Homo sapiens: one gene and its partners. The protein of the gene in region 4 purifies or fractionates together with the protein of the main gene of each other region. This does not show direct contact. Each region holds a gene or a part of one and is shown on either strand. Other genes may lie near its edges.

What was found.
Region 1: the proteins of ZNF428 (region 4) and PIP4K2B purify together in Homo sapiens (co-immunoprecipitation; 3 studies listed by BioGRID and IntAct, with this or other methods). This does not show direct contact.
Region 2: the proteins of ZNF428 (region 4) and POGZ purify together in Homo sapiens (affinity purification with mass spectrometry; 4 studies listed by BioGRID and IntAct, with this or other methods). This does not show direct contact.
Region 3: the proteins of ZNF428 (region 4) and CHAMP1 purify together in Homo sapiens (co-immunoprecipitation; 3 studies listed by BioGRID and IntAct, with this or other methods). This does not show direct contact.

The regions. Positions count from the first base shown.
Region 1 is NC_000017.11:38,768,530-38,775,564, forward strand, and holds part of PIP4K2B (phosphatidylinositol 5-phosphate 4-kinase type-2 beta), read right to left. Parts: intron 2,744-7,035; coding exon 2,485-2,743; intron 2,011-2,484; coding exon 1,907-2,010; intron 1,243-1,906; coding exon 1,162-1,242; 3' UTR 1-1,161. UniProt on the Homo sapiens protein: Participates in the biosynthesis of phosphatidylinositol 4,5-bisphosphate. Preferentially utilizes GTP, rather than ATP, for PI(5)P phosphorylation and its activity reflects changes in direct proportion to the physiological GTP concentration.
Region 2 is NC_000001.11:151,456,460-151,463,693, forward strand, and holds the start of POGZ (pogo transposable element with ZNF domain), read right to left. Parts: upstream 3,036-7,234; 5' UTR 2,693-3,035; exon of another isoform or gene 2,601-2,692; coding exon of another isoform or gene 2,581-2,600; intron 1-2,580. UniProt on the Homo sapiens protein: Plays a role in mitotic cell cycle progression and is involved in kinetochore assembly and mitotic sister chromatid cohesion.
Region 3 is NC_000013.11:114,324,493-114,327,847, reverse strand, and holds the end of CHAMP1 (chromosome alignment-maintaining phosphoprotein 1), read right to left. Parts: coding exon 1,567-3,355; 3' UTR 526-1,566; downstream 1-525. UniProt on the Homo sapiens protein: Required for proper alignment of chromosomes at metaphase and their accurate segregation during mitosis. Involved in the maintenance of spindle microtubules attachment to the kinetochore during sister chromatid biorientation.
Region 4 is NC_000019.10:43,609,629-43,616,663, forward strand, and holds part of ZNF428 (zinc finger protein 428), read right to left. Parts: intron 4,871-7,035; exon of another isoform or gene 4,807-4,870; 5' UTR 4,677-4,806; coding exon 4,601-4,676; coding exon of another isoform or gene 2,494-4,600; exon of another isoform or gene 2,460-2,493; intron 1-2,459. Other genes in the region: SRRM5 (serine/arginine repetitive matrix protein 5), read left to right, coding at 2,494-4,641.

The DNA of each region.
Region 1 (7,035 bases), on a different chromosome or scaffold from region 4:
GGGCACCTTGCTGGCTGTAACTCTCCAGGCACAGGGAGACAGATCTCCTACAAGGTCATCCCGGAGCTTAACGAGGTGTCTCTGCTAAAAAGCACTCCAGGCGCTTGGAGATCTGCCCAGAGCTAAGAGTTCGGCTAGAAGTAAGAGTGCCTGGGAGGAGGTCAGAAGGAAGAAGGAAATAGATCGAGGGCACAGGGCCTCATTTGATACATCAGTTTCTGAAGTTTTCCCAAAGGGAAATAACCATTTAAACATGAGGGTCCTGATAAATCCAAAGGTACTCTAGTTCCTCTTGACCTAGTGGGAGGCAGGCTTTACAGAGAGGACTTCTGAACTCCAGGGGCTAAGACAGCCTGGGGCTTGGGTGATCATCACAGGGTTCTCTGAGAACCAGGTGTCCAAGAGCCCAGCCGCTTTCCTGCCCCTCACCATCCCATGAGGATGAACTTATTCCCCTCTGAGATCTCTGATTCTGATCTGAGATCTCTGGTGTTGACCTGGTGTATTCCAGACAGGATGGAGGAATAATGCAACAGTTTTCACTTGAATCCAAGGGAAAGGTGGAGGAAGTTGTGCACAATACTCCATAAATTACAAAGTTAATCCAGACAAGAGCAAATGCAGCAGGGCGAGGTGTCTGACCTCTCCAATCTGGCATCCATAGCACTTGGTTCTGGAAGGACCCTTGTGCTGGGTCTACCGGGTATCTCTTTAATTGAAGGGAACTGAGAGCTCAGCAAAGATGGGGAGGGTGGGTAGGCTGATGAAATATGATTATAAATAGCAAACCTGGAGCAATGAAATTTCAGAAACAAAACCCAAATAAACCCACGAAGTCATCTCTAGCCCCAAGGTATCTTAAAAGGTTACAAGGTACCAAAAAGGGAACCCCTTTTTAACCTGGGTGTCAAATGGGGAGAAAAAATCAAGGGTAAGCAGAAGGTGGGGTTACATCCTGTGAGCAGGTGCACACACAGCACATCCCCCTCCTCTTCAGCTAAAGTCTCTTTCGGTGTCACAGGCTGCAGTCTCATTGCTAAAGCCCTCCCAAACCCGACTCTGCTCCCACCCTCCCATCTAGCCCAAATACACCCTTCTCCCTAACTCCCGATCCCCGACCCCATATCCAGCTCTCTGGCTCTGGCTGAAGGTAGAAGAGAACTACGTCAGGATGTTGGACATAAACTCGTTGAAGCGTTTGGAGTACTGCTCAGGGTTCACAGTCGAGATCTCGGCCCCTGCCTGTAATACACAAGAGGCTGATTCAGGTTGAGTTCCTGTGCCCCAATCAGGAGGCTGCACATGGGGGGAGCCAGGGTATTCAGAAGCCTCTTACTCAGTATCAGAGCTGAATACCACCCCCAACCCCACCAAGACTGAGCAGACCACCTCAGGAAGTGGCATACAAGTCCTGAACTGTCCTGGCCCCACTCCTGTGATTTATAACCCCAGGCCTGCACCGAAGTAGAAGAAAGGCAGTGGGGAGGTGGCAACGCGGCTCTGGATCTCTGTGGGGGCCACTACATGGAGAACAGGGCTTCAGGCCCACAGGGAAACAGGCCTGTGGGGAGCAGTATGGGCATGGAAACAAAGCTATTACTCGCCCTTCAACAAGATGCACAACAGGCCCAGCAGGCCCTGGGGAAAGACACTGGCAGGCTTGGCCCCGAGGGCTGGAGAACTGGGGGATAAACAAATTGGGCCCAGCCTGGCAGGGAGCAGGTGGGTGAAGGCAGGGAACATGGCAAGGCAGGCAGGCTGCTCTTCCAGTCTGCTCTCCTGGGAAGAAGGAGACAGGAGTGTGTTCCTTGGAGCAGGAGGCCTGAGACTGCCCTCCCTGGGGTCTGAGGGTAAGCACAGATGCACCGACCCAGCTGGGCCCTGGATGAAGATGGAGAGGACTCACCCCGTGTTTCACCGTTTTGGCAGCATGTGCAGCTTTCTTCTTTGTATCGTATGGCGTGAGGATATCAATGATGGCCATGAAATACACCTCCTTCTTGGGGGAACCTGGAGGGACAAGGAGAGCAGGGAAGAAGGAAGAGGGGGCAGGAGAAGGGCAGACAGCAGCTGGGCACTGCTACAACCCCCAGACACAAGGCTCAGCTCCATCCTTATCATGTTGGGGCTGAGAAAAGGACCAGTGGAGTCCTTTCCAGCTGTCATAGCTCTTATCTTATTGGATCTTCACAGTCACTCTGTGGGGCTGACAGGACAGTATGAATAAAGTTTGGTTCATCTCATGAACCAGAGCAGAACCACTCTTCAGTCAGCCAGGACAAGCAGGGAAGTATAGGAAAGCCTGGCAGAGGAGGAGCCCCAGGTTCAGGTGGTGACCCTGGATGGGAATCTGGAGGCAGAAAGAGGTCAAAGGCAGCAATGAATGAGGTGGAGGTCCAGATGCCCCTAGAAGGATCTAAACAATGAGCTGAGGGGGTAGGATGAGGGCAGGGCTGTGCAGAGCAGGCGCAGGCTCTGACTTACTTTCATGGCTTTTCATGGCATAGACGTCAACAGAGGGGTCGAATTCCCCAGGACCAAAGAACCGAGGAAAGCTGAGGAGGTTGCCAGGGCTGTCCGGAGGTGTGCCATAGGAGCAGAGTAGGTTGCCACCCACCCCATCATTCTCACACTCCTCGTCCTCTGCCCGCTCCTCCACCTCCATCTCCTCCTGCTCTGCCCGGTCCACGTCGTGGATGCCCACCAGCAGGCTGTAGTCCATGATCTTCAGCTGTGCCAAGAACTAGGAAGGGCAAGGATGGAAAGATGGAAGGAAGAAGAGGTTACACAGGACATCCCAGTGACATCCAGAAAGGGGGGAAAGGCATTCCTTTCAACTCAATTCTACAAACAGTTTTGAAATTCAACAGAGAGTAAGGCATCAGAGCACCCGCCCTCGCGAGCTCTCTCTAATGGGGAAGACAGTCATTCAGCAGGGGAAAGGCAGGAGGTCGAGGCTGCAGTGAGCTGTGATCACACCACTGCACTCTAGCTGGGTAACAGAGGGAGATGGTCTCAAAAAAAAAAAAAAAAAAAAAAAAAGCAAGGAGCTGTGGGAGTTTACAGTGAGGGGTGAGCAAGACCCTCCCTGAAGAAAGGAGTTGAGGCCAAGGATGAAGAGGAGTCAGTGAGGCAAGTACTGCAGGTTAAAGATAGAACGAGCACTGCAGGAAGAGGGAACAGCCCATGACGGTTTGGGATCAAGAGAGGCCATGGTGGCTGGGCACGGTGGCTCATGCCTGTAATCCCAGAACTTTGGGAGGCCAATTAAGGAGGATCACTTGAGGCCAGGAGTTTGAGACCAGCCTCAGCAACGTGATGAGACCCCATCTCTACAAAAAAATTTAAAAATTGGCTGGGCGTGGCAGTGCACACCTGTAGTCCTACCTACTTGGGAGGCTCAAGTGGGAGGATCGCGTGAGCCCAGGAATTTGAGGCTGCAGTAAGCTATGACGGCACTATTGCACTCAAGCCTGGGGAACAGAGTGAGACCCTGTCTCTTGTTTTAAAAAAAGAGGCCATGGCCAAGTTTGAGGAAAGAAATAATGAAATGATATACTATGGAAGAGGATGGAGCGATGGATATGACACAACAATATATTTCAGATCAAAATTTCAACCCATTATGAGTCCTAAACCCAATGTAGTGGGCTGGAACTAGGATTTCTTTAAATTAAATGCAGTAGTCCACCCTTATCCACAATGGTTTCAGTTACCTGTGGTCAACTACAGTCCAAAAATATTAAATGGAAAATTCCAGAAATAATTCATAAGTTTTTAAATAGTGTACCATTCCGAGTAGCATGATAAAATCTTGCTATGTCCCATTCAGTGCTGCCCAGGATGCAGATTATCCCTTTGTGCAGTATATCCACACTGTATGCACTAACGTCCCATTAGTCTTTCAGTAGCTGTCCGTAGCTGTCTTGGTTATCAGTTCACTATAGTTGTATCACAGTGCTTGTATTCAAGTAACCCATATTTGACTTCATTATGACTCCACAGAGCAAGAGTAGTGATGTTGGCAATTCAGATATGCCAAAGAGAAGCCATAAAGTGCTTTCTTTTTTTGAGACAGAGTCTTGCTCTGTCACCAGGCTAGAGTGCACTGGTGCAATCTCGGCTCACTGCAACCTCCACCTCCCAGGTTCAAGTGATTCTCCTGTCTCAGCCTCCCAAGTAGCTGGGACTTCAGGCATGCACCACCACACTCAGCTAATTTTTGTATTTTTAGTAGAGACAGTTTCATCATGTTGGCCAGGCTGGTCTCGAGCTCCTGACCTCAAGTGATCCACCTGCCTCAGCCTCCCAAAAGTGCTGGGATTACAGGTGTGAGCCACTGCACCTGGCCAGCTTTAAGTGAAAAGGTGAAAGCTCTTGACTTACAAAGAAAATAAATTGCATGCTGAGGTTGCTAAGATCTCCTGTAAGAACAAATCTTCTATCCGTGAAATTGTGAAGAAGGAAAAAAAATTCACGCATAGTATATACAGGGTTCAGTACTATCTGTGGCTTCAGGCGTCCACTGGGGATCTTGGAACATGTCCCCTGCTGATAAGGGGGGACTACTGTATAATAAAATAGAATAGAAAATATCAGAATACATGACAGAAAATAAGGGTAGACAGTGTTTCAGTTGTGTGTATCCATTGGGTTGCAAGGTAAAATATACTTCTAACTGGCCTCAGAGACAAAGTCTGAAAAAACTATGTCATCGACTTTTCAGCCCAGGTAAAAATAGAAAAAAAAGGAAAAGGGAACACAAAACCATACAAGAATGGCAGCCAGAACCAACCAATATTCTCAACCCATTCCCTGAAGGTCAAAAGAGGCTGTGTGGTGCTGGGGGAAAGTCCTCCCCTAGCATCATGTGACTCCCCTTGCCAAGCCTTAGTTTTCTCATCTGTATAATGGGTGCTGTGAGCAGGGTGGTGGTTCAAGTCTTTTATCTAGGATTTCAAGACAAAGTATGGAATGATACAGGATGGAAATGGCCAGCTAGCATTCCAGTTTAGCTAATAATGAGGCAAGAGTGCAGTCACCATCATACAGTGGTCACTAGGAGACTGTTAGACTGACCACCATGTTAGGTCCTAACAGAGAACTAGGAGGAGAATCATCATGGAAGCAGAGCAGCTCTATGCACGAGCCCAGAACACAACTAAGGACAAGGAGCCCTAAAGATGGGAGCCCAGCAGGATCTCCTTGGAAGAGGAAGGGAGGGAGGGATGCCACTCTGAGCACTTCCAGACAAAGCCTTCTCAAGGCCCAGGGAGAAGGGGCTAGGGTCCCAGGAAAAAGAAGGTCCATGCACCATGCCCTCCACCCACCTGAGAACATTTATAAAGCAACATGCATTGAAAACAAATGCACTGAGTAAACTGCATTAAATTCTTCTCAGAACCACAGTAGGGGGAGAGGGTAGAAAAGGGAGAAGGACAAAGACTCAGGACAAATAATGTCAGATGATGAAAGGCAGAATAAGGAAAGAACATAGTTGGGGGTGACTAAGGAAACGCTTCCTAGCAAAACGAAGTTTATGACACCCATGTTCACAGTAGCATTATTCCCAACAGCTACAAGGTGGAAGCAACCTAAGTGTGATGGCTAATTGTATATGCCAGCTGGACTGGGCCTGAGTGCCCAGACACTTGGTCAAGCATTATTCTGGGTGTGTCTGTGAGGGTTTCTGGGTGAAATGAGCATTGAACTGGTGGACTGAGTAAAGCAGATGGCCCTCCCCAGTGTGGATGGGCATCATCCAATCAGCAGAAGGCCTGAAGAGAAGAAAAAGGGTGACCCTCCGGTGAGGAAGAGGGAACTCCTTCTGCCTGGTGGCCTGATGGCCTGTAGAATAAAACCACACCACCAGCTCTCCTGGGCCTCCGGCTTGCTGACTGCAGATCTCGTTGGTATCCATAATCCCATGAAACAATTCCTTAAAATAAATCTCTTAGGGCCGGGCGTGGTGGCTCACACCTGTAATCCCAGCACTTTGGGAGGCCGAGGCAGGCAGATCATGAGGTCAGGAGATCAAGACCATCCTGGCTAACATGGTGAAACCCCATCTCTACTAAAAATACAAAAAAAACTAGCTGGGCATGGTGGTGGGCGCCTGTAGTCCCAGCTACTCGGGAGGCTGAGGCAGGAGAATGGCGTGAACCCGGGAGGCGGAGCTTGCAGTGAGCCAAGATCGCGCCACTGTACTCCAGCCTGGGTGACAGAGCAAGACTCTGTCTCAAAAAAAATAAATAAATAAAATAAAAAATAAATATCTTGGTATAAAGAGATTTACAAAACATCCTATAGGTTTTGTTTCTCTGGAGAACCCCAACTGATATAACAAGTGTCCATTAACTGATGAATAAACAAAATGTAATACATCCATACAATGGAATATTAATCAGTTTTTGTGTGTGTGTGTGTGTGTGTGTTTTTGAGATGAGGTCTCGTTCTGTCGCCCAGGCTGGAGTGCAGTGGCACGATCTCGGCTCCCTGCAAGCTCCGTCTCCCGGGTTCATGCCATTCTCCTGCCTCAGCCTCCCGAGTAGCTGGGACTACAGGCGCCCACCACCACACCTGGCTAATTTTGTTTTTGCATTTTTAGTAGAGACGGGGTTTCACCGTGTTAGCCAGGATGGTCTCGATCTCCTGACCTCGTGATCCGCCTGCCTTGGCCTCCCAAAGTGCTGGGATTACAAGCGTGAGCCACCGCGCCTAGCTTTTGTTTTGTTTTTTAAAGAGATGGGGTCTTACCCTCTAGTTCAGGCTGATGCACAGTGGCATGATCATAGCTCACCACAACCGTGAACTCCTAGGCACAAGGGATCCTCCCACCCAGCCTCCTGAATAGCTAGGACTACAGGCACATGTCACCACACCCAGCTAGTTTTTAATTTTTTGTAGAGACAGGATCTCAGTAAATTGCCCAGGTCTCCAACTTCTGGCCTCAAGCAGTCCTTCTGCCTCAGCCTCCTGAGCTGCTGGGATTACAGGTGTTAGCCACCATGCTCAGCCTTATTCAGCTTTAAAAAG
Region 2 (7,234 bases), on a different chromosome or scaffold from region 4:
AAAACCATAGTCTGCTAGTCGTTCTTTCAAGTAAAAATGCTACTCCATGAAATAAGCCATTCATTCACAACCCAATCTCACAAATGCTTTTCCTTCATGACAACAATCACACCTCCCTAGGCAGCATAAATGCTTTATCCATGTTTATTTAATCACAAATTCTTAAAAATTAAAAAGACATGTAGTCAAAAGCTAAGACTTAATAATAATAGGCCGGGCACGGTGGCTCATGCCTGTAATCCCAGCACTTTGGGACGCCGAGGCAGGTGGATCGCCTGAGGTCCGGAGTTCGAGACCAGCCTGGCCAACATGGCGAAACACTGTCTCTACTAAAAATACAACCAGGGAGGAAGAGATTGCAGTGAGCCGAGATAGTGCCACTGCACTCCACCCTGGGCGACAGAGCAAAACTCCGCCTCAAAAAAATAAAAATAGAATAATAAATTTTACTGCTTCAAGGGCATTCTCAAGTAGTTTGGTGCCCCTGACTTGCTTTGTGCTAAGGTACCGCCAGTAGTTTTACCCAGCCTTGCTTTTGAACCATCAGTGTATCAGTGAAAACAATAAATAGCATCTTACTATTATTTTGAAAATAGTTATGACCTTGAGGCTACCCTGAAAGGGTAAGAGGAGATCCCCATGGGTCATCTGTCCACACTTTGAGAACTGCTTTCCTACATTATACCACTAGTTCAAGATGGGAGTGGAAACTCTAACTAAATCAGGTTCGTCCCAAGAGTCCATTCTGTTACCTCCTTTAGTTTGAGATACACCACCAACACAGCTCTGGAAAAGGGAAGGAAATCAACGGCACAAGGTGTCACTTGTTTCAACATCTTGAACACTTTTATGTTAGACCAGTAATTCTCAATGTAGTGGTTACATTAATCAGTCTCAGCCCCAGGACTGCTCATTTGAAAATGTAAAGATGACAACCCCCCTCTGCTCCATTCAAATAAATTTGGGGGATGAGGCCCCCCAAATTGTACGTTTAACCACCTTCAAGTTACTTTTTATGCACCCCGAAGTTGAGAACGATTGTGCTAACAGTTCGAATTCAGAGTTCAAGCTCTCAGACCCTGAGCAATAGTGTCTCAAAATTAATCGTTTGCCAACGAGCAGCCCTCCCTGCCCCCTCCGTTTCCCTTTCCTCTAGTTGGGTAAATGCCTACAGAAGTAAAACCCGGCCGGGCGCGGTGGCTGACGCCTGTAATCCCAGCACTTTGGGAGGCCAAGGCGGGCGGATCACCTGAGGTCAGGCGTTCAAGACCAGCCTGGCCAACATGGTGAAACCTCGTCCCTACTAAAAATACAAAAATTAGCCGGGCGTGGTAGCACATGCCTGTAATCCCAGCTACTAGGAAGGCTGAGGCAGGAGAATCACTGGAACCCGGCAGGCGGAGGTTGCAGTGAGCAGAGATCGTGCCACTGCACACCAGCCTGGGCGACAAGAGTGAAACTTCGTCTCAAAAAAAAAAAAAAAAGTAAAACCCCATTTCTGTGGAGTTTTGAGCGGCGGTAAGAGGTGTCTACGGGCTTGGAAGGACGGGCTACACCGCTTGCATCAAGACGGCGGCTGCTGTGAGATAGTCCAACTGCATCTTAGTTTCCATTTCGAAAATGAGACTGGCCACTAAATGACTCTAAGGACTCATCAGCACTACCTTTTTCTGAACTAAGAATGTCTAAGACAAGTGCTACTAGCAGTTTGAGAGAATCCCACATCTGGAGAGGAAGGAAATAAGAACAACACGCAGAAAGACGGAAAACAAATAGATCAATGACAGTACTCCTTTGCAAAAGGTGCCAAGAATCTAAATAAAATAGTCCCCGGGATAAACATGGCGCCCACCGCGGCAGGACATAATCACCAGAAAATAAAGATTCCCCGCCTCATTCCATTTTATAAATCACGGCGCCATCCCAAAAGAAATTTGGGGACCGAGGGAGGAGACTTCGTAAACTAGCTGCAGTGCACTAAGGCTTAGGATGTACTATTAGACCAAGCAGAGATTACATAACACAAGGGATCGGCTCAGCAATCACTCATTTTCCTCCTCCCGCTCAAAACGAGCGCCCCACTCCTTCTCGGAGCGGGAATGGGGCGGGGAGGGCCGCGCACCCCCACCCCCAGGGGCCGCTCCGCCGCCGCCCGCCCCTCCGCCGCACGGCCTCGCCCCCTCGCCGGCCCCTCCCGCCGCGCCCCGCCGTCTCGCCACCGCCCGCGCCCCCGCCCCCGCCCCTTCCCCAGCGGGCCACCGCCCGCGCCCGCGCCGCCCACTCCTCCGAGACGCCTCGCGCCGAGCGTGCGTGTGGACGTCGGGCTGTGTGCGGGGCCGTGGGGCGCGAGTGCGCGCGCGCGCGCCGCGGCGGGCGCCGGGGGGCGGGGGCGGCCGGCCAGCCGGCAGGCAGGGACCTCCGCCGCCGGCCCTTCGCGCGGCTCCCGCGGCCCGGGGCGCACGCACACACACTCGCGCTCGCGCGCCGCACCCCGCGGCCGCCCCTGCCGCGGGCCGCGCCGCCACTCGCGGTGGGCGGGGGCGCGCACCGCCGGCCCCCCGCCCCCACCCCCGCGCGTACCGGCCCCATCCCCCTCTCATTGTCTCGCCTCTGAACGCCTCGCCGAGCGAAAAGATAACGGAACCCCCGGGAGCAGGGGGTGGGGAGAGAGAAGGCTCGCTCGCTCACTCACCTCCTGTGGTCGTCGCCGCCGGTAGTCTGACCCGAGGAAGGCGCCGTCGCCTTAAAGGGACCTTACACCCGGCGCCAGAAGGGGGTGGGAGCAGGGGGAGGGGACGGGGGCTTGGGGGGAGACGAAGAAGAGGTAACCGTTGAAAGCTCGTCTCCCCAAGGGTGAAAGGAAGCCTCCCTCGGGTTCGAGTGATTCGGGGTGGATTTTTTTCCCGAGGGGGGCGGGGGGGCCCCGAGGGAGGGGGGTGGGGGGGCCAAGGAATGCGGCTCCGTGTACGGGAGCTGGCGCGGGGGAGAGAGACGCCGACTCCCCCCACCGACCCTCTCGCCCCGCGGAGGGATACGGCTCGTCACTTCCGCCCTCCCCTTTTTCACGGCCTCCCAATTGGTCGGAGCGCGCTGCACGTCATGGGCTCATCCAAACCCCTGCCCGGGCTTCTTTTCTAGTCAAGTTTGGCTGGGCCTGCAAATAAATAAATAAAGGAAAACATTTTTTGTAATGAAAAAAGAATAATTAGCTTCAGAAGCTATATCTAAATTTTGGTGAGAAAAATGAGACTTCCAAAGAAAATATTCCCCAATTTACTTGCCAAGAGTTTCCAAGGAAGTGTTGGGAGGCTCCCCCACTTTCCACTCAAGGCTTAGACCCAGTCAAGAGGGAGACTTCATGACACAGGCCAGGTGGTGAGGCCCAGTGGCACCAACAACTGTCATTGGAACAAAGAACAAAATGGCACTCACTCTTTCTCAAGAGACACTCGGCCAAGTAACCTTGTGGCTGCGGCCTTGTTTAAGTGAAGAACTTTTAAAAGCCATTTTGATCCTCAAGCCCTTCTGGATCCTGGAAAGAAGTGGCACACGATTGTTAAAGCGATTATTGTGATGGAAACTGCTTTGCTCCCATTGTGAGTAGATTCAGCAGAGATCCCCAGTTCCAAGAAACCACACACACTCCACATCCTTATGCTTTTTGCTCCAATCAAGGCTGAGATGGGTTGGCTCAAAGAAATTGGTTAGTCCACTCAAACGACCATCCACCTGTTTATTCTTCCCCAGACAAAAACTACCTCTTTTCAGGTAGCTAAGAAATTTTGTCCTTTATTGCCTTCTGAGATTATAAAAATGTAATATTTTCCTTGAATATTTGAAAATGTTTGCTATTTAAGCAATACACAAATATTTGCTTCAAACCAAATGTGAAATCAAGGTACTTGGTGCAGAAAGGGGAAATCCAGAACTATGTTTATTTGTGCTCTTTATATACACACTCCATTCAAACCACCAGACTGAAAATAGGCAGTGGAAGTAGGCATTCCAAATTGTATGCACCTGCCCGTGTGAGTGTGCACATGTGCATACACATACACACACTGCCACCACCCAGTTTCATTCCATTTCATACCAAAACCATGTGAGTGATTTCCACTAGTGTAGGATGCTTAGGAAGGACTTCATTATTTGAATGAGAAGAATCACTAAATCCTTCTGAAAATACTTCTGAAGACTTTCCAGACCTGATCTGGAGAAGCCCATATTAGGATTATGGGATCAATCACCAAAAGACTACATGAAACTCAAATCCTATTTTATACTGTCGTGTAATTAGTATAATTCATTATATATGTTATATTTACATTATGTATATTACGTTATTAACCTTTGAAAAATTCCAACATATTTCCCCATGCCCTGTCAATTTATTCTCCCAGCCAATGAGATCTAGCGCAGACTATGCCATATACCGTTGACCAGTAACTGTTAGCATGCTTTATTGAAAATGGATCATGCATCCATTCATTCATTCAATGAATATTTATTGGGGGCTGGGCATGGTGGCTAACACCTGTAATCCCAACACTTTGGAAGGCCAAGGGAGGAGGATCACAGCAGTCTGAGGGCAGCCTGGGCAACTTAGCAACATCCCATCTCTACAAAAAAAAATTTTTTTTTTTTAAACAGAGTCTCGCTCTCTCCCCCAGGCTGGAGTGAAGTGGCGCGATCTCGGCTCACTGCAACCTCCGCCTGCTGGGTGCAATTCTCCTGCCTCAGCCTCCTGAGTAGCTGGGACTACAGGCGTGCGCCACGATGCCTGGCTAATTTTTTCTGTTTTTAGTAGAGACGGGGTTTCACCAAGCAGGCTGGTCTCGAACTCCTGACCTCGTGATCTGCCCGCCTCCGCCTCCCAAAGCGCTGGGATTACAGGCGTGAGCCACCGTGCCTGGCCCCAAAAAATTTTTTTCATTAGCTGGTTGTGGTATTCCTAGATACTTGGAAGACTTGGGAGGATCACTTGAGGCCAGGAGTTTGAGACTGCAGTGAGCTATGATGACACTACTTGCACTCTAGCCTGGGAGGGACAGAGCAAGATCCTGTCTCAAAAAAAAAAAAAAAATTATTGAGCACATGTACTAGGCACTGTTTTAGGTGCTGGGAATACAGCAGCAACAACAACAACAAATACCTGAATCTGTGGGATTTATACTCTAGAAGGAAAGAGACATAAAATATACACATAAACAAATTGTTCTATTGTCTATTGTTAAATAACAAATGACCCCGAACTTAGTGGCTTAAAACAACAATTTCATTACCTCTCATGGTTCTGGGAGGTAATTAGGCTCAGCTAAACAGTTCTCACTTGGGAGTCTCGTATGCAGTGGCTAGGGCTGAAGTAATCTCAAAAGCTTCCTTACATGTCTGGAAGTTGAGGTTGACTGTTGGCTTGGACCGCAGCTGGGGTTGTTGGCAGACCATTTACAAGTGGCTTCTCCATGTAGCCTGGGCTTCCTCATATCATAGTGGCTGAGTTCCAAGACTGAGTGCCCCAAAAGGACCAGACAGAGATCGTGACCTAGTCTCAGAGGTCATATAGTGTTACTTCCATTACAGTTACAGGATGGAGAGCATAGATCCCCATCTCTCAACGGGAATAGTGGAAATGTCACATTGTAAGAAAGTGTGCGGAAAGGGAAATCTTGTGGCCATCTTGGAAAATGCAATCTGATATACATTATGTAAATAAATATGGATTATATGAAATGGTGATAGGTGCTATGAAGGGTAAAGGGCAGGATAGGGGAATTAGGAGTGTGGTGCAGACATGGGGGTGGAGAATTTGCTATTTTATGTGGGGTGATTGGAGAAGTCCTTGTTAAGGTGACATTTGGGCAAAGACCTGAAGAAAGTGAAGCAAAGTTTAGGTTTTACCTGTAGTGAAAATGAAGCTGCTGGAGGATCATAAAGCAAGTAGTGACACGGCCTGACTCACGTTTTTAAAGGATCACTGTGGCTGCTTGTGAAGAATAACTAATAGAGGCAAGGGCAGATGCAGGGAGACCAGATAGAAGGCTATTGCAATAATCCAGGTGAGAGTTGATGGTAGCTTGGACCAGGATGGGAGTTGTGAAGCTGCTGCTTCAGGTGATTGAGTTCTGTGGTGTGTTACTTACTCCTCTCTATTTTTCTGTCATTTAGTTTGTGCCCTGGGAGACAGTTTTGACCCATAATGCCCAATAAAATGAGTGATGGTGCTATGCCTGCCACCAAGAATACAGAAAGTCTATCATGCTAAATGTAAAAGTGGGAGTTTTGCAGGATCTGGAGGCACCTTTGAGGAAATGGGTGAGGAAACAGAGGGTAAAGATCAACAGGCAATTAGGGAATGGAGTGTCTTTTGACGTTGTAAAAGGTATCCTGGCCAGGTGTGGTGGCTCATGCCTGTAATCCCAGCACTTTGGGAGGCCGAGGTGGGTGGATTACAAGATCAGGAGTTTGAGACCAGCCTGGCCAACATGGTGAAACCCCATCTCTACTAAAAATACAAAAATTAGCCAGGCGTGGTGGCACATGCCTGTAGTCCTAGCTACTCAGGAGGCTGAGGCAGGAGAATCGCTTGAACCCGGGAGGTGGAGGTTGCAGTGAGCCGAGATCACACCACATCACTCCAGCCTGGGTGACAGAGTGAGACTCCATCTCAAAGAAAAAAAAAAAAAAAGGAAATGATGAGCAAAGACATTTTATACCTTCAGAAGATTTCAAGGAAACTCTGCCACCTTACATTACAACACTGGTGCAGCACTTCAAAAGAGACTATACAGTTAACACTGCTATTTCCAGAAACGTATTCCTTGTGCTAAAGAGAGAATGCTCATATTAATTTGGACAGTGTTGGAACATTTTGCTTCTTCAGCTAAAACACAGGTTTCCAGAGTGAAGTAACAGAACTGATAGCTTTGGTCTCTCTTTTGGACCATCTGGATAATGGTTTGAACCATCTTGATGATGATGGGAAACCCAAGTAGTAGAACAAATAACCTGAATCAGATCCTTAGAAATCAACTCGTATGTGCCTCTGTAACATACTGGGGAGGAATCTGAAAGCCAATCCAGTCTGATATGTTGAAGAAATTTGATCCTAATAGTGGTACTCCTAAAAATTATTCCAGTCTTCAGTAGCCAACTTAGAAACTTTTTCTAAGAAAGAAAGTCAAAGGTTAATGGATGTCCCAAGCTGAGCTTTTCAGTTACATAGCTGGAGAGTGTT
Region 3 (3,355 bases), on a different chromosome or scaffold from region 4:
CGGCACAGCAACCTGGGTGACACAGCAAGGATCGGTCTCAAAATAAAAAACAAAAATAAAAAGAGAGAGATTTGAGTGTGGACACAGAGCCAAACCATATTACTAAATATTGTTAAGCTATCCCAACGGGCATATTAATAGGGAAGCCAGCGGGTGGGGAACTAGGACAAAACTGTTCCTTGTTAAAAAAATGTCTGGGAATAGCTAAAATAAACCCAGTACAGCATCTCAATCCTGGCTACACATCAGAATGCTTTGAGATTAAATGCCTCACACTGTTTAGAGGCAGGCAGGATAGGCAACCACTGGAATTAAAAAACCTTTCATATGAAAGGATGAGGTTTTTGACACAGAGTCCTCCCTATACACGCATTCCCCTAACTTACTTGACCACAGAACTTGGAGAAAACACAGCTAAGAAAATGCTGCTCCAGATAAGAAAACTATGTTGAAAACATGGAAATAATGGATCTGTATATCATACAATGAAAACTACACAAAAGAAAACACACATGAAGATGTTGCTGACATGAAAACCTTTCTTTTTAATTTGGTTGATACACATTTGACAAAATATTTTAGAATAAAATAATCCATGAACAGGTACAAGGTATTTACAGTAACATAATTGAAAAACATAAAATCGATATATTTCTTTAACAGAAATGTCTATAAAATTTTCTACTGTGAATCTGGAAGACTTTCAGTTCCTACTTATCAACCTGGTCTTAAGCCCCAACAGGCGACATGTAAGGCCCAGGAGTAGGATATACAAACTCTAACACATTTGGCAATTAAGAATCATCTATTAGTGTGAGCTGGCAGGCGGTGGGTGGGGGGTGGGGATGGGGAGGGAAGAACCAGATCTTAGGGTAAGATACAGAATGGAAGACTCCACTGAAAACAACTATGGACAAGAAAGATCTAAAATCACACTTATCTTTCACTTGTCTCCTGTGGGAGAAGGCTGCAAACTATTTTAAAGACTTAGTCAATTTTTCCCATTAGCAGAAAATCAGCAACCCTGAGACTCCAACATTTCATGACATAAAAGCTAATAAACATCTAGAAGCTGATTAAGATTTATAAACTAATTTTACATCAGATAGAAAATAACTCTTATGATTTAAAAATACATGTAAGGAAACAAAATTTCTCAAATTTATTTTTCATGCCTAATTCTTAAACATTTCAACTAATATTTTCTATTGTCTGAAATTAGTTCCACACACAGATACACTTTAACTGAATGCTTTGAGTACAACTTGCTCTTGATTATTAAATGGAATGCCTACTTCCTTGTATTATTATTCATACATATTTAAAAGAAATGAGAAGTTTAATCCATCTGGACTATACAGAAATTTATTGACTTACAAGATAGTCACATAGACAGAGACCAGAAAAAAATGATCAAATGCTCATTCTTAGTAACACAACTGAGACAGTGAAACACGGTACACCATACATGTCATCTACTGATCCAACTATGCTATCTGATAAGCTATACTTACAAAGAATGGTTCCAACAAACACCTTTGTAGAACAAATATTCACACTGTGTTATCAAATTTGCTGCTCCTCCAGTGGCGGTTCAAGAGCTTCCATTAGCTTTTTATTTGCCTCTTCATTATGCCGGCTTTGACAATGAGTTAAATGTTTCTTAAAACCTCTTGGGAAATTTGATTCAAAATTACAACGTGGACATTTAAGTAAACTTTGCCCATGGGCTGCTACATGATTTTTAAGGAGAGATTCCAAAAGAAAAGCCTTTCCACAGATTGTGCATTTGTAAGGGCTATGAACATTATGCTTATTAACCAAATGATGCAAAACAGCACCTTTTTTCATAGCACGACAGCAACAAATTTTGCAATAATACTTTCCTTTTCCACGCTTCATGTATTTTGCAATCTCCTCTTCAGAGATAAAAGCTTCTTTTTCTTCAGTAAACTGTAGCACATTTCTAGACTGCTCTGGACTAGTCATGTCCATTTTGTTCTCTTTGCTAAAATCAATGGATTCCACATCAACCTGCTCTTGATCACTGCTTGATTCCTGGCCCTTAATATCCATCGCATCCAAATCTGTTTTTATGTACTCACTACTACTAAGCTCAGCGTCTGAGCTCTCTTGGTTGTCTTTCTTGAGCTTCTTTGAGGAAGGAAATAAAGTATCTTCTAAGAGTTTCTTAGGTGAAGCTAGAAGTTCTTCCTGAACCAAAATATCACATTTTTGATCATCTATGGCATCTATTTGTAGTTCATCACCAAGCTCAACAGCCTTCTGTGATTCTGAGAATAGAGCAGATTTGGGGAGTTCAGGGAAAAGGGCATGCTTCCGGGGCTCTGGAAAAAGGGCACGTTTGCGTGCTTCTGGAGAAGCAGGAGGGGCTGTTTTGGCAGGCTCGGGAAACAGGGCAGGTTTTCTAGGCTCAGTATCGATAGAGAGAACAGGCTTCCAGATATCTGAGGCTGCTTTGGGGGACTCAGATGGCCCAGAAGGACCTGGTTTTCGGGTCTCAGGGAAGACAGGTTTCTGAGGCTCAATAAAAAAGGAAGACTTCCAGAGATCAGGAGAACCACCACGGGAACTTTTCTGGGACTCAGGGAAATCAAGTGAAGCAGGAGAAGTTTTCCGCTGATCAGGAGAAAGCTTCCAAAGATCTGGTGACCCTGAGGGTTTTCTGAGCTCTGGAGATCCTGCTGGACTACGGATCTCTGGGGATAGTGGTGGGCCGGGTTTGCGAAGCTCTGGAGACACTGGGGGAACTGCCTTCCAATGTTCAGGAGACAACGTGGGAGCTGTCTTTCGGAGTTCTGGTGGGCCAGACTTCCATGACTCAGGAGATGCAGGGGGAGACTTCCAGGAGCTGGGTGAGACTGATGAAGATTTCCAGGATGCAGAAGACACAGATGGAGTTGGTTTCCAAGGTCCAGGAGATACAGAAGGAATTGGTTTCCAAGGTCCAGGAGACACAGATGGAGCAGGTTTAGCTGGCTTCCAAGGTCCTGATGATGCTGAAGGATTGGATTTCCAAGGCCTAGGGGACCCAGGTGGCCCTGGTTTCCAAGAGCCTGGTGACACAGCGGGGGCTGGTCTCCTAGGCTCTGGGGAGACAGCAGGGAACGGCTTCCAAGGTTCAGGAGACTCTGAAGGGGATGGCTTCCTTGGCTCAGGGGAGGTAGTCCGGGCTGACTTCCGAGATTCTGGAGATGCAGCTGGGGATGGTCCCCAAGGTTCTGGGGAAGCAGCTAGAACTGGTGACTCTGGAGATGAGGCTGAAGGTGGCCCCAATGTTTCCGGGAAATGAGACTGCTTCTGGGGTTTGGGATTACTAAGAGTAGCCTTTACT
Region 4 (7,035 bases):
CTACTCAGGACTCTGAGGCAGGAGAATTGCTCGAACCCGGGAGGCGGAGGTTGCGATGAGCCAATATTGAACCACTGCACTCCAGCCTGGGTGACAGAGCAAGACTCCGTTCCCAAAAAAAAAAAAGAAAAGGGGAAAAATTTATAGTTGATATACGGAAAAGGGCGACATCAGCTGCCATTATGGGGGCGCACACACAGAGTAATGGTTGGGGATGGGGTCCCTGTGACCACGGTGTGGGAAGTACCAGCTTCTTCGGCCTTGGTGGTAGGAGCCTGCCAAAAGCCTCACCTTGTATCCATCCCAGCCCCATTCCTCAGTTTCTCCCAGAACCCAGAGGATCCTGCTACTGCACCCTGTGCTCCGCCCTTGCTCCTGTCATCACAGTGGCCACAGGCTCTTCATACCAGGCTCCTCACCTTCCAACACCCCAGGCCCATACCTGCCTCAGGGTCTTTGCCACCCTTTCTGCCGATGTCACTCTCCATTCCATGTCTCTTCTCAAGTGTCACCTTCTCAGTGACGCCCTGGCCACTCCCCAGCACTCCCTACGCCCCTTACTCTGCTTGATTTTTCTCCATCTTCTTTTGAGATAGAGTCTCGCTCTGTCATCCAGGCTGGAGTGCAGTGGCGTGATCTCAGCTCACTGGAAACTCCGCCTCCTGGGTTCAGGCAATTCTTCTGCCTCAGCCTCTCAAGTAACTGGGATTACAGGGGCGCACCAGCATGCCCAGGTAATTTTTGTATTTTTAGTAGAGACGGGGTTTCACCTTGTTGGCCAGGCTGGTCTCAAACTCCTGACCTCAAGTGATCCACTCATCTCAGCCTCCCAAAGTGCTGGGATTATAGGTATGAGCCACCGCAGCCGGCTCATTTTTCTCCATCTTCTGACTCACTGCATTCAACATTTACTTGTGTGTTTGTTTACTGCCTGTCCCCGAGAGCTGGGACTTTGTCTGGTTCACTGCTGTGGCCCCAGCATCTAAAACACTTCCTTTGTGCAAAGAAAGTACTTATGACATATTTATGGCATGGATATCTCTGCATGGAATTTGACAAACCTTTTCTGAGGCTTCACACACACTGTTCCTCCCTCTGGTGGGAATGTCCTGCCCTAGTTTTTCCCACCATCCTTTAGGACCCAGTGGGAGGCCTTCCTCTTTGGTGAGGCCGTCCCAGACCTCCTCATCCCAGGCAGCCAGTCACTTTTTTTACCACCCTCCTGCTGGGTCCCCAGCATCACCAGCCCAGAACAGGTTATAACTCTTTCCTTCTGAACATCCGTCCCTGCAGCTCTCTCCTACTAGTTCCTGCCATTTAACAATCGTTTCCTGAGGCCTTGGTATGGGCTGTTCCCCACTCTATCCACCTGGTGACCCCCTACTCATCCTTCAAGACCCAGCACAAACTCTGTCCTCTGTGAAGCCACCACCCTGAAGCCCCAGGCTCCCAGCCAGGTCTCTCTCCAGCTTCCCCTGCCCCAGCACCTCCTCCTGTTACTGCCCTAGAAGCTGACTGCAGTCAGCTGCCCCCCAGGGTATCTCCCTTATCTGACTGGGAACTCCTCAAGGGCAGGTATGATCTTGGGGTCCGCAGCAGAGGACGTGTGGGTGAGTGGATGATAGTGGCCCCAAGACCCTGATCTCCCTCCCCAAAGCCTTGGCCTCTGCTCCTCGCCCACCTGGTTGACCCGTTCATTTTTTTTTTTTTCGAGAGAGAGTCTCGCTGTCACCCAGGCTGGCGTGCAATGGCGTGATCTTGGCTCACTGCAACCTCCGCCTCCAAGGTTCAAGCGATCCTCCCACCTCAGCCTCCCAAGTAGCTGGGATTACAAGCGTGTGCTATCACACCTGGCTAATTTTTATATTTTTGGTAGAGATGGGGTTTCACCTTGTTGGTTAGGCTGGTCTTGAACTCCTGACCTCAGGTGATCTGCCTGCCTCAGCCTCCCAAAGTGCTGGGATTACAGGTGTGAGCCACCGCGCCCAGCCTGACCCTTTCTTTCTCTACTGGCAAAACTCCTGCTCCTTTTTAAAGCCAAGCTCATGTCACCTCCTCTGTGAAGTCCTCGCTGACTCCCCAAGCGGTCAGTGTCTCTCTCGTATGGGCTCCCCGGCCCCTGCACTGCTCTCCATCACACCCTGACCACTCTGGGCAGTGGCCCCCCTCCCCACCCACTGACTATGGGCTCCTTGAAGGCAGGGCCTGGGTCTGCCCCATCTCTGTGTCCCCAGCAATGCTGGGCATGAGTCAGCCTCAGAAGACATCTGCTGAATGGCTGCAAACCAGAGGAAATATCTCCAGCCTCAGGCTGGGACCCCTCCCCTCTCTCCTCCCACCTCTGACTTCATACCACTCACCCTCCAGAGTCTTCAATGCCCACTATTACTTCACACAGTTGGCCTGTGACAGGCAATCAGGTCATCGTCCACGGCTACCAGGTGTTTCATGTCTACTGTGACTTCCAGGACCACAAGCCCTTTTGCGCCCACCATGTCTTCACCTAAGAGATCTTCAAAGCCCAGTATGTCTCTGGCACCCAGTGGATCCTCCATGCCCACTGCGGATCCCAAGCCTCCTGCCTCCTTGAAGTCCACCAAATCAGCAACACCCAACAGATCCTTAGTGCCCACCAAACCAGCGACATCCCGTAACTCAGTCATGAGCCCAAGCAGTTCCAAGTCCACCAAATCGACCAGTACAAAAAGAGCCCCTTCTAACCGGCCCAGCAGCAGGTCCCGAGTCCGCAGCAAAGCAAGAACACCCAGCAGGGTGAGCACCGACACCAGGACCAGCAAAGCCAGCAAGGCCAGCGACGTGAGATGCCACCAGCGGAGGGGCACACACAGCCGGGGTAGGACACCTGGCAGAAGGGGAAGCCGCAGCTCCAAGAGGTCACCCAGCAGGGCCAGCACTCCTGGCAGGATAAGAACTCATGGTGCCAGACCAGGCATGGCCAGCAGGGTGAGAACTCCCACTTCACAGCAAAAAGGGAGCCGGGGAAAGAGTTACGGCCGGCCTAGAACCAGCAACAGGGAAAGGAGTGACAGCCAGCCTAGAAATCTGAGCAAGAAGAGTTACCGCCCACCAGGAGGCTCAGGTATAGGGAGGAGTTCCGAGCTGGCTGTAACTCCCAGTACAGCCAAGTGTCAAACCCCGACTGGAATTCCCTCCAAGGAGAAGAGTGACAACCCATCTCCATCCTCATCAAGGAAGGTGAAGAGCTACGGTCAGATGATCATCCCCAGTAGGGAAAAGAGTTACAGCCCCACTGAAATGTCCAGCAGGGTCAAGAGTTATAACCAGGCCAGCACCCGCAGCAGGCCGCAAAGTCACAGCCAATCTAGAAGCCCCAGAAGGTCAAGAAGTGGCAGTCAGAAGAGGACGCACAGCAGAGTGAGAAGTCACAGTTGGAAGAGAAACCATAGCAGGGCAAGAAGTCGCACCCGGAAGGGAATTCTGAGCCAGATGGGAAGACACAGCCAGTCTAGAAGCCACAGCAAGGGGAAAAGTCAAAACCAATCTAGAACCCCCAGAAGAGGAAGAAGTCACAACTGGTCTAGAAACCCCAGCAAGGAAAGAAGTCATAGCCATTCCAGAAGCTCCAGCAAAGAGAGAGATCACAGGGGATCTAGCAGCCCCAGGAAGGAGAGTGGTCGCAGTCAATCAGGAAGCCCCAACAAGCAGAGAGATCACAGCCGATCTAGAAGTCCCAACAAGGCGAGAGATCGCAGCCGATCTAGAAGTCCCTACAAGGCGAGAGATCGCAGCCGATCTAGAAGTCCCAACAAGGCGAGAGATTGCAGCCGATCTAGAAGTCCCTACAAGGCGAGAGATCGCAGCCGATCTAGAAGTCCCAACAAGGCAAGAGATCATAGCCGATCTAGAAGTCCCAACAAGGCGAGAGATCGCAGCCGATCTAGAAGCCCCAGCAAGGAAAGAGATCACAGCCAACTTGGAAGCCCCAGCAAAGAGAGAGATCACAGACGATCTAGAAGCCCCAGCAAGGAGAGACAGTGCAGACAATCTAGAAGCTCCAGCAAAGAGAGAGATCACAGACGATCTAGAAGCCCCAGCAAGGAGAGACAGCGCAGACAATCTAGAAGCCCCAACAAGGAGAGAGATCGCAGCCAATCTAGAAGCCCCAGCGAGGAGAGAGAGCACAGACAATCCAGAAGCCCCAGCAAAGAGAGAGATCGCAGACGATGGAGAAGCCCCAGCAAGGAGAGAGAGCGCAGACAATCTAGAAGCTCCAGCGAGGAGAGAGATCACAGCCGATCTAGAAGCCCCAATAAGCAGAGTGGTTACAGTCGACCTAGAGCCTCCAGCAAGGAGAAAGCTCATAGCCGATCTAGAACCCCCAGCAAAGAAGGAAATCATAGCCAATCTAGAACCTCTAGCAAGGAGAGCGACCCCAGTCAATCTACAGTCCCCAGAAGTCCCGACTGGAAGAGATCCCCTACTAGGACAAGCAGTCTCAGTCAGAATAGAACCCCTAGCAAGACAAGCAGCCACTCCCCATCAACATTTCCCAGTGGGGGCCAAACCCTAAGCCAGGATGACAGTCAAGCCGACGCCACCACCTCTAAGGCCACCTTACCTGGGGAAAGGTCTTCATCATCTTCTTCCAAGCTGGCGTAGCCCCCAGTCTCAGCTGGCTCACGGGTCTCTGTCATGACCGGGGGAGGGGACAGGAGACAGGAGCAGAGCAGCAGCTGAGCAGCGTCCCTCCCCGGCCAGCTCTCCACAGCCACACCTCCGGCCACAAGTTCTCTAATACAGGATGTTGGCAGGTAGAGAGGGATGCTGGATAGGGGGAAAGGAAAGACCTGTGATGATTCAATAAATTTTTACATAGCACCCATCCCCACCAAGCCCAACTGTGTGCTCACTGCTGGCATGGGGCACAGAGGACCCCAGCTCTGTCCCTGACTGTCTACAGGGTCTTGACTGCAAGCCCTGCCCCTCTCTAGGTCTTTTTTTTTTTTGAGACAGAGTCTCTCTCTGTTGCCCAGGCTGGAGTGCAGTGGTGTGATCTCAGCTCACTGCAACCTCCACCTCCCAGGCTCAAGCAATTCTCCTACCTCAGCTTCCCGAGTAGCTGGAACTACAAGTGTGCGTCCTCACGCCCGGCTAATTTTGTATTTTTAGTAGAGATGGGGCTTCACCATGTTGGCCAGGCTGGGCTCGAACTCCTGACCTCAGGTGATCCACATGCCTCAACCTCGCAAAGTGCTGGGATTATAGGCATGAGCCACCGCACCCGTCCCCCTCTCTAGGTCTTAATTTCCGCATGTGGGCAACAAGGCTGCCTTCTGGTTCTTATTCAGTGGGGTAGGGAGAGGTGACACTCCAAATATTCAACAGTGGGGACTGGTGTGGGCACCAATCAGAACTGAGAGTGGAGCGGGACGGATACCAGGCCTTAACCCTTTAGTTGCTGGACCATGGGGAGGTCTGGGGTTGGGGAAGTGTTATGGGGAAAAAAAACCCTCAAACTGTGTTTTTCCTCTACTCTCACACTATCACAACAATCATCAACACAGAATTCTGTGACCAAATGTGTGGGGCTTTTTCCCCACACACTACACAGCAGACAACAGCTAGGTGTCCCCTCCGATTCCATTCCAACGCTGTCCCCACACCCAGCTAATTTTTGTATTTTTGGAAGAGACAGGGTTTCACCATGTTGCCCAGAGCTCAAGCAATCTGCCCACTTCAGCCCTCCAAAGTGCTGGGATTACAGGCGTGAGCCACCACACCCGACTTTTTTAAAAAAATAAAAATAAGGCCGGGCGCAGTGACCCATGCCTGTAATCCCAGCACTTTGGGAGGCCGAGGTGGGCAGATCACCTGAGCTCAGGAGTTTGACACCAGCCTAGGCAACATGGCAAACTTGTCTCTAAAAAAAAAAAAAAAATTACAAAAGTTAGCCGGTGTGGTGGCATGTGCTTATAGTCCCAGCTACCTGAGAGGCTGAGGCAGGAGGATAAATTGAGCCTGGAAGGTCAAGGCTGCAGTGAGCCGTGACCTTGCCACTGCACTCAAGCCTGGATGACCCATCTTACAAAAAAAAAATTTTTGCTGGAGCTGCTCACAGAACTCAAGGAAATGCTTACTTAGATTTACTGGTTTATTATAGAGGATATTGCAAAGAACAAAGATGAAGAGATGTGTAGGGCAAGGTATAAGGGAAGGGGCAGGGAGCTTCACGCCCTCCCTGGGGTGCTACCCTACAGGAACCCTCAGGTGGTTAGCTATGCGGAAGCTCTCCAAACCCAGTCCTCTTGGGTTTTTACGGAGGCTTTAAGACAGCAGCATTGGGCATGGACTTCTCTGAAAAGTGTCTTAAGACCAACAATCAAGAAGGTGGGGAAGATTAGAGTCTTGCCCTGGGGCAGGAAATGGAGGGCAGGAGGAGGTCAGAGAGATTCTGTTTCTTCAGACCTGCCCCAGGCCTAAGGTACACAACATTATAACAAGAGACTGTAACAAAGGCTGTAGGAGTTACCAGCCAGGAACTGTGGATGAAAACCAATATATTTATATATATAATACCACAAGGGGGGTCCAAAGTGGCAGTTAGGGACAGGGAGTACTTGTGTAGCAGTGACACACCAACCCATCTGGAAGTATTTTAATATTTAAACAATTGGTATGGCTATACTAGTTTGTGATTATCAGCCTTAGTTCTGTATCAATTGGCAAGATAGTGTCTAGGTTTGCCACACTCTAGCTGTGTAGCACCAAGCAAAGAACTTAACTTCTCTAGCCTGTTTCCTTCTCTGGAAGAAAGGGGCTTCCAGGCCTTAACTCACGTACTCCCCATAACTAGACTGGGAATTATCTCCTTTGTACAGATGAGGAAACAGACACAGAGGTGATAAGTGAGTAGCCCAAGGTCACCATCTGGTAAGTGGATGAACTAGGATTGGAAGCCAGACCTTTCATAAAATGATTTCTCAGCTCAAAAGGTTTTTCTGAAGATTCAGTAGGCTCACTGATAGAAATTGCTGGTGTGTGGCTGGTATTCCA